2 separate regions of the Homo sapiens genome follow, and region 2 is linked to region 1. Evidence: fine-mapped expression QTL. A gene starts in region 1. The other region holds a variant in brackets. All regions are shown on one strand. Distances are between the middles of the regions. Region 1 holds the start of RRM2B (ribonucleotide reductase regulatory TP53 inducible subunit M2B). Region 2 overlaps RRM2B (ribonucleotide reductase regulatory TP53 inducible subunit M2B).

Region 1 (5,383 bases):
TTCTGAATGGGAATTAACATGAATAGAGGTGGCATTAGGAAGACTAATCAGAAAACCACGTATAGGATTAATTGATAAAAAACTAGATTTTGCAAGCAACTAAGGAACCAATTTCAAAGATGGAAATGAGGACTTGAATTAAGATGTGGCAGTTAGCATGAAAAAAGCAGCTTCAACAAGACTTCACCAGCCTGAGGTGTTGGCCAGGCTTTTTGGTAGGAATTGAGACTCTTTTGGGAGTTTTTTGGGGGACACAGGGTCAGTGACACTGAGGCACTGGTCTAATGAAGGATTAACTTGGCAATGGTAATTAGGATTGAATGGCAGGTAAGATAGGAGATAGAGAAACAACAAAATTATTATAGCCGCACAGGTGTAAAGTGATGAGAATTTGAAATAAAGTTTAGCAGTAGGCATTCCTTAGTGACATTCTGCTGTTTTTTCCAGAATGGTACTTCCAGTTTCCGACTGACTCAATTTCTGGTCACCCAGTTGGAAGACATGCCTGGGCATGTCAGGACAACAATTTAGGTCAAGATTTCCCAGCAAGCACTTACGATGCCCCAATCTAGGCTGGCATCATACCAGGCTCTTACCTCCTATCCAGCCCCAATTCCACCACTTCCGTTTCTTTGCCTTTATGTCTCTTCTACTTCTGTAAAATAGCTGTATGTTGTCATAGTCATACACTACTTGTAAGTATTATTTTCACTTCTATTCCCACAAAGTCTGACGGAACCAATGGGATACCCGCCCAGGTGCAAGAACTTGGTTTTAAATTTAGCTCCTCTACTGAGTCCTGGGCATGCCATTTAATGTTTTCTGGCCTAAACTTTACCTTGACAATAGACTATGAATTAGATTAGCAATAGTTAACTCTGAGAAATTGACAATAACTATGGACCCCTTTCTCAGAAGATTCACATCTGCACATACAAAATCTACATATCACTTCAGGAGATTTATAAAGCCCCTTCTAGTCTATCTATGGACCCTTTAAGACAGTGGGGGGTTTTTTGTTTTTGTTTTAATATGTGTACCAGGATCACCTGAAGTACTTGTTAAAAATGCAGATCTCAAGAGATTTTGATTCACTATGTTTGGGGTGTTGGTCCAGCAATTTACATTTTTTACAAAATACTCCAAGTGACTCTGATGCAGGTCTCCTATTATGCACTCTGGCATCTAGAAAAACAAAGTGCTTCAGGCAACCCAGCATCTCAAGTTAAAAACTTTTGGACCACTAAAATTCATTCTGAATCTAAAATTCTGTCTGTCCTTGCGGGTCTGTATCATTGAGATAGGAGTAATAAATAAAATGTAATATCCAGGTGTTAAGCCTGAATCACTGCTGGTGCCATTAGCATAAACAGCAGTCTGAATTTTCCCCTTTGAGTAGGGAAGTTGGTACTAAACGCATTTGTTTCAAAACAGGAAGAAAAAGCTTGAGGGATATTTACAGTTAGTTACTAAATGCTTACAAAAATCAAGTTAAATAAAATAAAATCTCAAACCTGGAATCTACAACTTTCTAAAGAAATGTAGGGCCAAGCATGAATCTCTTGGGGTGGAAACGTTTGTTTCCCCCAAATCTTCACAGTATTAAATCAAAGATACCACAGCAACAGGTTCCAGTAGTACAAAAAGCATTTCTCTTGTCCACAAAGGGCTTAGAAGTATTTGCAAAATGACAGTGTTTGAAAATTATACAGCAACAGTTTAAACTACCATACAATCCTACAGTCTAACAAATTCTGGTTTATTTATTTTAGGTACTTTTATCAGCATAAACAACTTGGATGAACAACTTGGGCTTATTAAGCACCTACAATTTTCGTGGCACTTTGCATAAAGCATTTTACTTAATTCTCTCTGAAGTATCACTTCCATTGTATAAAGGAAGAAAGTGACACCCCGAAGATTCAGTTAGTTAAGGAGCCGGGCCTGAGCAAAACTGGCCTCCTACCCTGATTTTTTCACTGGGAGGAGGTCATGAGGATTTCGTGTCCCCTTCTACCTGTCATCTTCACCCCAGCCACCTGTGTCAATTTCCACACGCGTTCTCCAACTCCTTGTCACCATCCCAAATGGTATGCACCTCTCCAGCAGAGCCGCCACAGTCCTCTTTCCTTGCCTCGGTTTCCCTGGCCAGGGCTCCAAAACAGGGAAGGAGGGTGGGAGAGCGTGAGGCGGATAAACGCAGGGGTAAGTCTCACCCCGGCCTGAGGCCTCCAAGCGTCGTCCTTGGCTGGCCCCGGGGCAGAGCAGCGAGCGGGACGCAAACCCAAAGTCAGCTCCTTCCTCCGCCCTCCCCGGGGACGGCCTCCCCGGCGCTCGCAACGACGAAGCCAGGCTGCGGCGAGGGCGGGCGGACAGGCCTGTCCTGACCGCGGCGAATAACATTTCCTACAGCGGTCCTGCAACTTGCAATCTAACGGGCTGGCGTGACTGCGGTGAGGGGGAAGACGCAACAGCAACATTTACCTCATCCTGATCCAGCCCGGCCGCTTCCGGCCTTTCCGGGTCGCCCATCGCGCAGACTCCGCCGAAGCTACGGGCGCTGAGGGAACTGAGCTCCTCAGGCCACCTCCAACTACGACAGCACCCAGGTGGTCCGCTGGTCCGCTGGGTCCGCCCCGCCCCCAGCTCTAGGGACTCGGCCGGCCCCGCCCCGCCGCGCCGGTCCTGCTTTCTCGCCTGTCCATTGAGTGACTCTCCCTGCGCCGGCCCGGCCCCGCCTCCCCCGCCTCGGGGCTCCGCCTAACTTCGGCCAGCCCCGCCTCCCCGCCTGCGGCCTAAGGGTTTCTCCCCGCCTCGGCCGACCCGCCTCCCCTACTGCGGCCTAAGGGATCCTCCCCGCCTCGGCCTGCCCTGCCTCCCAGCCTGTGGCCTAAGGGATTATCCCTGTCTCGGCAAGCCCCGCCTGCCTTGGGGCACCGCCTACCTCTGCCAGCCACGCCTCCCCTGCCTCGGGGCTCCGCCTACCCCGGCCAGCCCCATTTCCCCGCCTGCGGCCTAAGGAAATCTCCCTGCTTCCGCTGGCCCCGCCTTACTCTGTTGCACCGCCCAGTCGCCCGGCTTTCCACTGAGGGACGCCCCCTGCTCTGGACTGCTTAGCCTACTCCAGCTGGCCCCACCTCACCTCATCGGCCCCGCCTCCTCCGCTCGCCCACTCCGGGCGCCCACTCCTGAGGAGCTATCCCAGAGTCCGCGCGGCCTCGCCTTCCCGGCCCGCTCACCACCCCGCCTCGTCCCACCTCGCCTCGCCCTCCCCGGGCTCTAGCCACTTGGTGCGGCAGGTGTCCTGCAGGCCGGCTCGAGATTCCCGAGCTCGCCCTCGTGGTGTTCCAGGAACACGGTACTTTGCGCTAGCCTGGCCTGTCCTGAGAGACTGCGGGAGGCGAAGAGAACGCGCTGTTGCTGTGGGAAGCGCCGGGGACGGGACAGCTACACCGCCAAACACTTCGCTAGGGAAAGGGCTGGCTGGTTTCGTGCGTAAACAACCGAAAAGGGGAAGTGTCTGGGGGAAAGTGTGTGTGTGTGTGTGTGAATGCGGGTGAGTGAGGGGGAGAGGGACACGTTACTAAAGTCAGGCAAATATTTTGAAAAAAATATATTTTGAAAAAAATAGTTTGGTCTAACAAAAATAAAATGGAAGAGAGATTTGTTTAAGTAGTTTGAAGCTGAAAGATTGACGGGATCTTGCCATGACCTGAACAGCATGCACCTGTTTTGTGGCTGGCTGAAGGATGGTAAATAGGATCAAGATCTCACTTTAAGCGTTGAAAATGCTGAAAGCCCTTTCTCAAACCTGCCATAGCGTAGGGGTAGACAGTCTTTCTTAAAGCAACTACTAGGGGTCAAATGCTGAGTGAAATTTTTTTCATCTGTGAACTTTAAATAATAGCCACATACATTCTGCTAGGCAACTGAGTCTCAATTTACTATAGGCCACGTGGCAAATAATCAGATTCAATTAAAGTCATCAAACAATAATTGTGTGTCGGGCATCACGTTTAGGTATTCAAGATACAAACATGAATGAGTTTGGTGAAAAAGTCATATCATCATGGGCATGAATTCTAGTTCCCTCACTTATTAGCTATGCTACCTTGGGTCAATTAACCTCTCTGAGACTCAGCTTTCTCATCTACAGGATAAGAATAATAATCCCTTCCTCATAAGGTTGTTGTGTGAATTTAATAATATATTACTTGTAAAACACTTATTGGGGTGGGAAATTACCTTGATGCAATGGTAGCTTCCACGTACGAGTCAGGCCATCCCAGAGGGTCATGGAACTCAGATGGCTGAGTTCAAAAGGCTCAGATCAAATTGAGATGCCTGAGTCACACAGTTTATTAAATCAATTTATTTTCATTTTAAATAAGTTTATTCAAACAAGACATTTGACTTGAAAGGAAAACTAGGATTTTTTTTTAAGAGTAATGTGTCATTACTGAAAGATTGCCTTACATGTAATAGCCACGTACAAAGAGTTATAAAATTGTCTTGGCTAGGCCGGCACGGTGGCTCACGCCTGTAATCCCAGCACTTTGGGAGGCCAAGGCGGGTGGATCACCTGAGGCCAGGAGTTCGAGACCAGCCTAACCAACATGGCAAAACCCGTCTCTACTAAAAATACAAAAATTAGCCGGGCGTGTTGGCGCATGCCTATAATTCTAGCTACTTGAGAGGCTGAGGCAGGAGAATAGCTTGAATCCTGGAGGCAGAGGTTACAGTGAGCTGAGATTGTGCCATTGCACTCCTGCCTTGATGACAAGAGCAAAACTCAGTCTCAAAAAAAAAAAAAGAATTGTCCTTGGCTTTACAATCATAAACAAAATACATTACAATTCTTCAACTGAAGAAGATATGCAAAAACTGTTATGGTGTTTTGTTTTGTGTGTGGGGTTTTTTTGGTTAAAACAGAGCAAAATAACGAACTGGAATATAAAGATAAGACCTGAATGAGCATGGCATTAATGGAGAAGGGAGTCTTCACAAAACCATATTTCTCCGCCCATCCTATCTTCATTTGATGCGGATCAAAAGATAACATTGGGGCCAGGCGCAGTGGCTCACGCCTGTAATCCCAGCACTTTGGGAGGCCAAGGCGGGTGGGTCACCTGAGGTCGGGAGTTCGAGACCAGCCTGACCAACATGGAGAAACCCCATCTCTACTAAAAAAATACAAAATTAGCCGGGCACGGTGGCGCATGCCTGTAATCCCAGCTACTCGGAAGGCTGAGGCAGGAGAATCACTTGAACCCGGGAGACGGAGGTTGTGGTGAGCCAAGATCGCGCCACTGCACTCCAGCCTGGGCAACAAGAGCAACACCCCGTCTCAAAAAAAAAAAAAAAAAATTGACCATTTGGTTAA
Region 2 (5,383 bases), 35 kb before region 1:
AGCTCCCTGAGGTTCTCATCACCAATGAGCCCACCCACTTCCCCAGCAACAAACCCCAGCCTCCTTCTCCCACACTTACTATGTTCTGAATCACCAATTCTAGCACCTCACTCTGACCACAATCTCCTCCCCTTCCAGAGCACTTGTTCACCTACTCCCCCCACCACAGTTCTTAGACTTAATCAAGACCCCCAAGTTCTCTCACTCATCTACTTTCTCCCAATCCATGAACCTCTTCTCTTCACGTCTCTCTATCCAGCTAAGATTCCGGAGTCCATCATATTACTAGTAGTAGCATTCCTATCAATAGCCTTAACTCTGTTCCTCACCTGCATTTTACCATACATACATACATTTTACCATACATAGAAAAATCCAGGAAAAAACCCATTGTGAATGCAACAATCCAGTTTTTACATATTTGTACCCTAGCAGCAAATGCTGCTAGAGAAAAACCATACACTAAGGCAAACTGAATCTACTAGGCTCTCCATCCTCCACAATTGCTTCTTCACACCTCCCCTCGCTGCCCCTACCCCCACTTCCCAAGGAGGTGACCTTATCATCTCTTTCACAGAGAAATTAAGTCAACAAACAACAAGCTTACAATGTCTCTTCACTAAACTACAGACATACCCCATCACCATCCATCCACCTTCCCTAGCTTCCCTCCTGCTACAATAGAGGAAGTGTCTGAGGTCAAGCCCTCCACCTGTGCTTTCCATCATCCCACCTTCTCAGGAGGCTTACATTACCTTCTCACACCCCTCTTCTTACCTTTGCCAAGATTGTCTTGATGAATTCTTATCTCAAGATTTTTTCTCAGTTGGGCACGGTGGCTCACGCCTGTTATCCCAGCACTTTAGGAGGCCGAGTTGGGCGGATCATGAGGTCAAGAGATAGAGACCATCCTGACCAACATGGTGAAACCCCATCTGTACTAAAAATACAAAAATTCACTGGGCATGGTGGCGAACGCCTGTAGTCCCAGCTACTCGGGAGGCTGAGGCAGGAGAATTGCTTGAATCCGGGAGGTGGAGGTTGCAGTGAGCCGAGATCGCGCCACTGCACTCCAGCCTGGCAACGGAGTGAGACTCTGTCTCAAAAAAAAAAAAGAATTTTTCTCAATCCCAACTCTTATTTTGGGGGTTTACAATCAGCCTGCTTTTTCAGCCTGCAAGGTACTTAATTTTTTGAGTCTGATTTCCTTTTGGTTTTTCTTACAAACTCACTAATTCTTTCCTGAGCTCATCTCTTTCTTGTAATTCTTTGAGGAAAGTACCAATAATTTCCAACACTCTTTGTGACACATCTTCTATATGTCGTCCAGATCCATTTTCCACCCTACGCCTGGAGGCTGATCTGTAAGGACGGCATCAAGCTCCCTTGCCCTCTTGCTCCTAGTTGGTTTTGGCTAATGGGGAGCCACTGAAGGAGATAGGAGGCAAGAGGAACAAGGTGAGAGTATTTATTTTCTGGCTCCTTCTCAGCGAAGTTGCCTTAGGCTTGCTGTCTCGCTCTAAATGAAGATCACATCTTATTCATAATTCTCTCCCTCTGGTTTAACTGCTCCCTCAAGCTTAAGGGAGGAGTTAAGCAGGGGTGGTAACAGCCCTGTAATTAATTGGTAGCCCCATGTACTACACTATTTCCTATGGTTTCCTGTCCATAACTTTCTAAATTGTCCTGTTGCCAAACTTCTTTTGAATTACCCTAACTTGAATTGCCAACTGTTTCTTGCTGAGCCCGATACTCACATAAATACCGATTATTTCCATGTACTTTTTTTTTCTTCCAGGGATCAATTTCTGTTTTAACTAGAATCCCTTTGGTTGAAAATCAAGAAACCTAATTTGACCTACCTTAAGCCGAAAGTGGCATTTGTTACCTTGAAAATGAAACTATGCAAAGAATACAGTTGGACCTCAGAGGAGTTTAGAACTAGGACTCTCTCTAGCTTGTCTTTAGAATAAAAGTGCTTCTCTTTCTTCAGTTTCAATTAGGAAAACCCTAGGTAAGGACCTGGCCCAGTCTGGATCACATGCTTAAGCCTGCGCCCAGACACATTCAGTGCATACTAGCGTATTGGCAGCCCTGGGAGAACCGCATGGTTGGGAATGAGAGCAGCAGTCCCCAGAATTAAATGGCTGTTAGTCCCAGATATTTTCAATCACTCCGATTGTAATGACTCCACAGCAGAAATCACACATAGGAATTCATATCTACTGTTAACTTCTTAGGTTCTAGATTTGGGGCTCTTATATCGTCAAATTTTTCTACTAACTCTGAGAATATCTCTATGTGTGCAAAGTCCACAGAGTAAAATATATGGTCACCTCTTTGGGAAACGGGGGTAGAGGTAGAGAGAGGAGGTGTGAAAAAGCAATTGTGCACAGTGGAGGTCAAGTTTACCAGGAAATTGTAGTAGGATTACCAGATAGTGCTGAGATAGGGTAATCATGAATACGTAGAGAATCCAATTGCCTTGTTGTATGACTTCTTCTCTAGCAGCATTTGGCTGCTGGGGTGCAAATACTGGAAAAACTAAGTTGTTTCATTCAAAACAGACTTGGGGATTTTTCTAAATTTTTCTATGTATGGTAAAAAGCAGATAAGGGACAGAGTTGAGGGTACTGGTATGAGTGCTACTGCTAGTAATATGATGTTTGTGGAATCTCAGCTGGAAACAAAGACATGAAGAGAGGCTTATGGATTGGGAGAAAGATAGGTGAGAGAACTGGGAGTCTCATTTAATGTAAAAACTATGGTTGGGGC[G/A]ATAGTTGAACAAACAAGTATGTATTTATCTGCAGACACAAATAGTAAGTATATACATTCCTTTATTAGGGTAGCCCTTGCACTTATAAAGAAACCTTCCTCAAAAAGGAAATGTACAAAATGATGAAGATACCATAGTTTATTTCAACATACTAAGCCAAAAAAATAAGAAAACAACTAATTTATTTGAAAAAAAAACAAATTCTGTACATGCAGGCTTGGCTTGATTGACCATAATGTATTTCAGCAAAAAAAATTTAGATACACCACACATAATAAAGCTTTCTATGTACACAGTAAATAGTAAATAACTTTGCTAAATGGCCAGACATTTGAAAAAATGAAAACACAGTTGTAAAACAAAGTATGTAAGAATATTGTGACCTTATTTAACTGTACAAAAAGCAATCATTCTCTCCAGCCTTCCATCTTCACTTACATTTTTTTAAACAAGATTAAGCCCCAAATTGAAGGGATTAAATCCTTTCTTCCTAATGCCTCGGGAATATGAGATTCTCTTTCAAATCTTTAACTTTTTACAAAGGAGCAGAGCACTTAAAGGGAAATGGTGGGAAACAAAGAGATTTCAATTCTGTGCCATTCATCCAGATTCTGCTGGGGAAGATTTCCCAAGTCCACTACCAATTCACTCAACTTGGTTTAAAAACATAATACCTGATTGTAGGATTAATTTGGCTTTTATTTAGCCCATCTGCAGCTTTATCATTAAAAATCAGCTCCTGACATTAGCCCTTAGTTCAGTATCTACAAATGAAATTTGGGAATTCTATGACAGTGATGTTAGCATATTTAAATGTAAAATGCAAAATGATTAATTTTTAAATATGCAAACTGCTACATTTTCTCAATAATCAATTCATGCACAAATAAAAAATGGCAATAGAAAAAGCAGAAAAATATGGATGTTTCTAAATGAGACAATGAGACAATTATAAAAATTTCATGTATTAATATCAAGACAAGGCTGGGGCCAGCTTAGTTGTAAGAAAAACTATTATTGTATATAATTGGACAGCAAAACCCAGTCCTGTCTAAAAGCAATGGATCAAACTGTCTTCTCAAGTCCTTCCTGGCCATATTTCTATGTGATACAATGAAACATTTTTAATAAATGCAATCTATCATAGAACTGCAAGTTTTTATATTCCTAATGAACTTAACTTTATTATAGCAATGATTTAAATACATGTACTGTAAAAAAGAGAAAACAGTTGTAAACACACTCTTAATTTTTTTCTTTATCTGCAAGATAATATTTTTAAAAGATTACACAACTTCTTGATTCTTTAAGAACTAAGAACCAAAGTATTGAACATAATAAATAAATGTGCAACCTGGAGGCCTGGAAAAAGAGATAGAATACCAAATAACAAACCAGTGCATTAAAAATCCAGTATGTCAGTATTAAGACTTCTTCATCCAAATCCAGTTAGGTTTATTGCTATTATAAATAAGCTTCACATTAAGGCATCTGTCATTACCTATGAAAAAGATTTGGATTCAAAACAAAGGAATATACACTGTACAATTTTTTTTCTTTCATTCTGATGTCATTACAGATATTATCAGTTTTAAATGTTAAGTTTTTGTATGGCAATATATAAATATCTTTAAACATATTACCTGAATACAGTTCAAATGTCTCTCTATATTTTGATACTTTAATATATATATTTAAAGTATATTCAATTAATGAGGAAATAGACAAAAGCAAATCAACATAGATGGTAAAGGACTAAATCTGAGACATTACAACCTCTAAAAAAAAATACTGTACAGACAGTGACGATGAGCAGATCTTGGCCAAGTCATTTAACTTCCCTGAGCCTCATTCTTTCCATCTGTAATATTTCAATAACAGTTGCTCTGTCAAGCTGTTTTGAGATCAAATGAGATGATGTAAAAACACTTGGCAAACTGAAGCAATGCAAAAATTAATGGTATTATCATAGGCCAAAAGATCTCAAGTTTCTGACAGTGTATCTAACAAATAAAGTTATGGCCTGCTCCTTTTGCATTCACTTGAGAACTCCCAGTTTTGATTAGATTGTTATGGAAAGAATGGAGCCAAAATTTATGCAAAGAGAAAATCTCTAAGTTTTAGCATCCAGAATTGTATAAAGTACAGTTTGTTGGGAATGGGAAACAACTGCTTGAAGGGGTATACAGAATACCAAATAATAATGTATTAAAAATTCAGTATTTCAGTATTAAGACTTCTTCATCCAAAGACAGGTCTAACTCTAACTAGGCTCAGGCTACCTCTTGATACTTACTAAAAATAAATAGGGGCAGACTTCTCAAAAACCTTGGTTCCCGGCCTTTCATCAGACTCTTCTAGAGAAACCTCCTTTTCCCTCACCATTGGCTATCATGTTGCATAGTCACATTAAAAGAACTATCTCTTATAACAGCTCAAGAGTTTTAAAACCATAAAGAAACACAGCCTAAGTCAATTGCTGGTACACTATTCAGGCTGGTATAAATTTGAAATGATTCAATAATCCCTACCATGTTCTCCCTTTCTCAGTCCATAAGCCCTTCCTCTATGTATAAATGGTTCTCGGCCAGCTTTTTCCAATCTTTG

The links. PIP is the estimated chance that this variant, and not a neighbour inherited with it, causes the effect. A credible set is the group of variants that fine-mapping cannot tell apart.
Region 2: its variant is the best candidate, but not a certain one, in a credible set for the expression of RRM2B in blood mononuclear cells (TOPMed, PIP 0.68).

What each region holds. Positions count from the first base shown.
Region 1 is chr8:102,236,343-102,241,725 of GRCh38, forward strand. RRM2B (ribonucleotide reductase regulatory TP53 inducible subunit M2B) reads right to left here and starts at 2,619. Exons shown (of 9, transcript NM_015713.5): 1 at 2,485-2,619. The coding sequence starts at 2,532. It overlaps UBR5-DT (UBR5 divergent transcript), which reads left to right and starts at 3,109. Exons shown (of 3, transcript NR_125415.1): 1 at 3,109-3,358. RefSeq lists enhancers at 1-1,139, 2,443-2,542 and a silencer at 2,613-3,042.
Region 2 is chr8:102,201,683-102,207,065 of GRCh38, forward strand. RRM2B (ribonucleotide reductase regulatory TP53 inducible subunit M2B) reads right to left here. Exons shown (of 9, transcript NM_015713.5): 9 at 2,820-5,383. Among named protein-coding and RNA genes, the nearest start is that of RRM2B, 35 kb to the right of the region's middle. The variant G/A (reference allele first, on the strand shown) is at 2,776.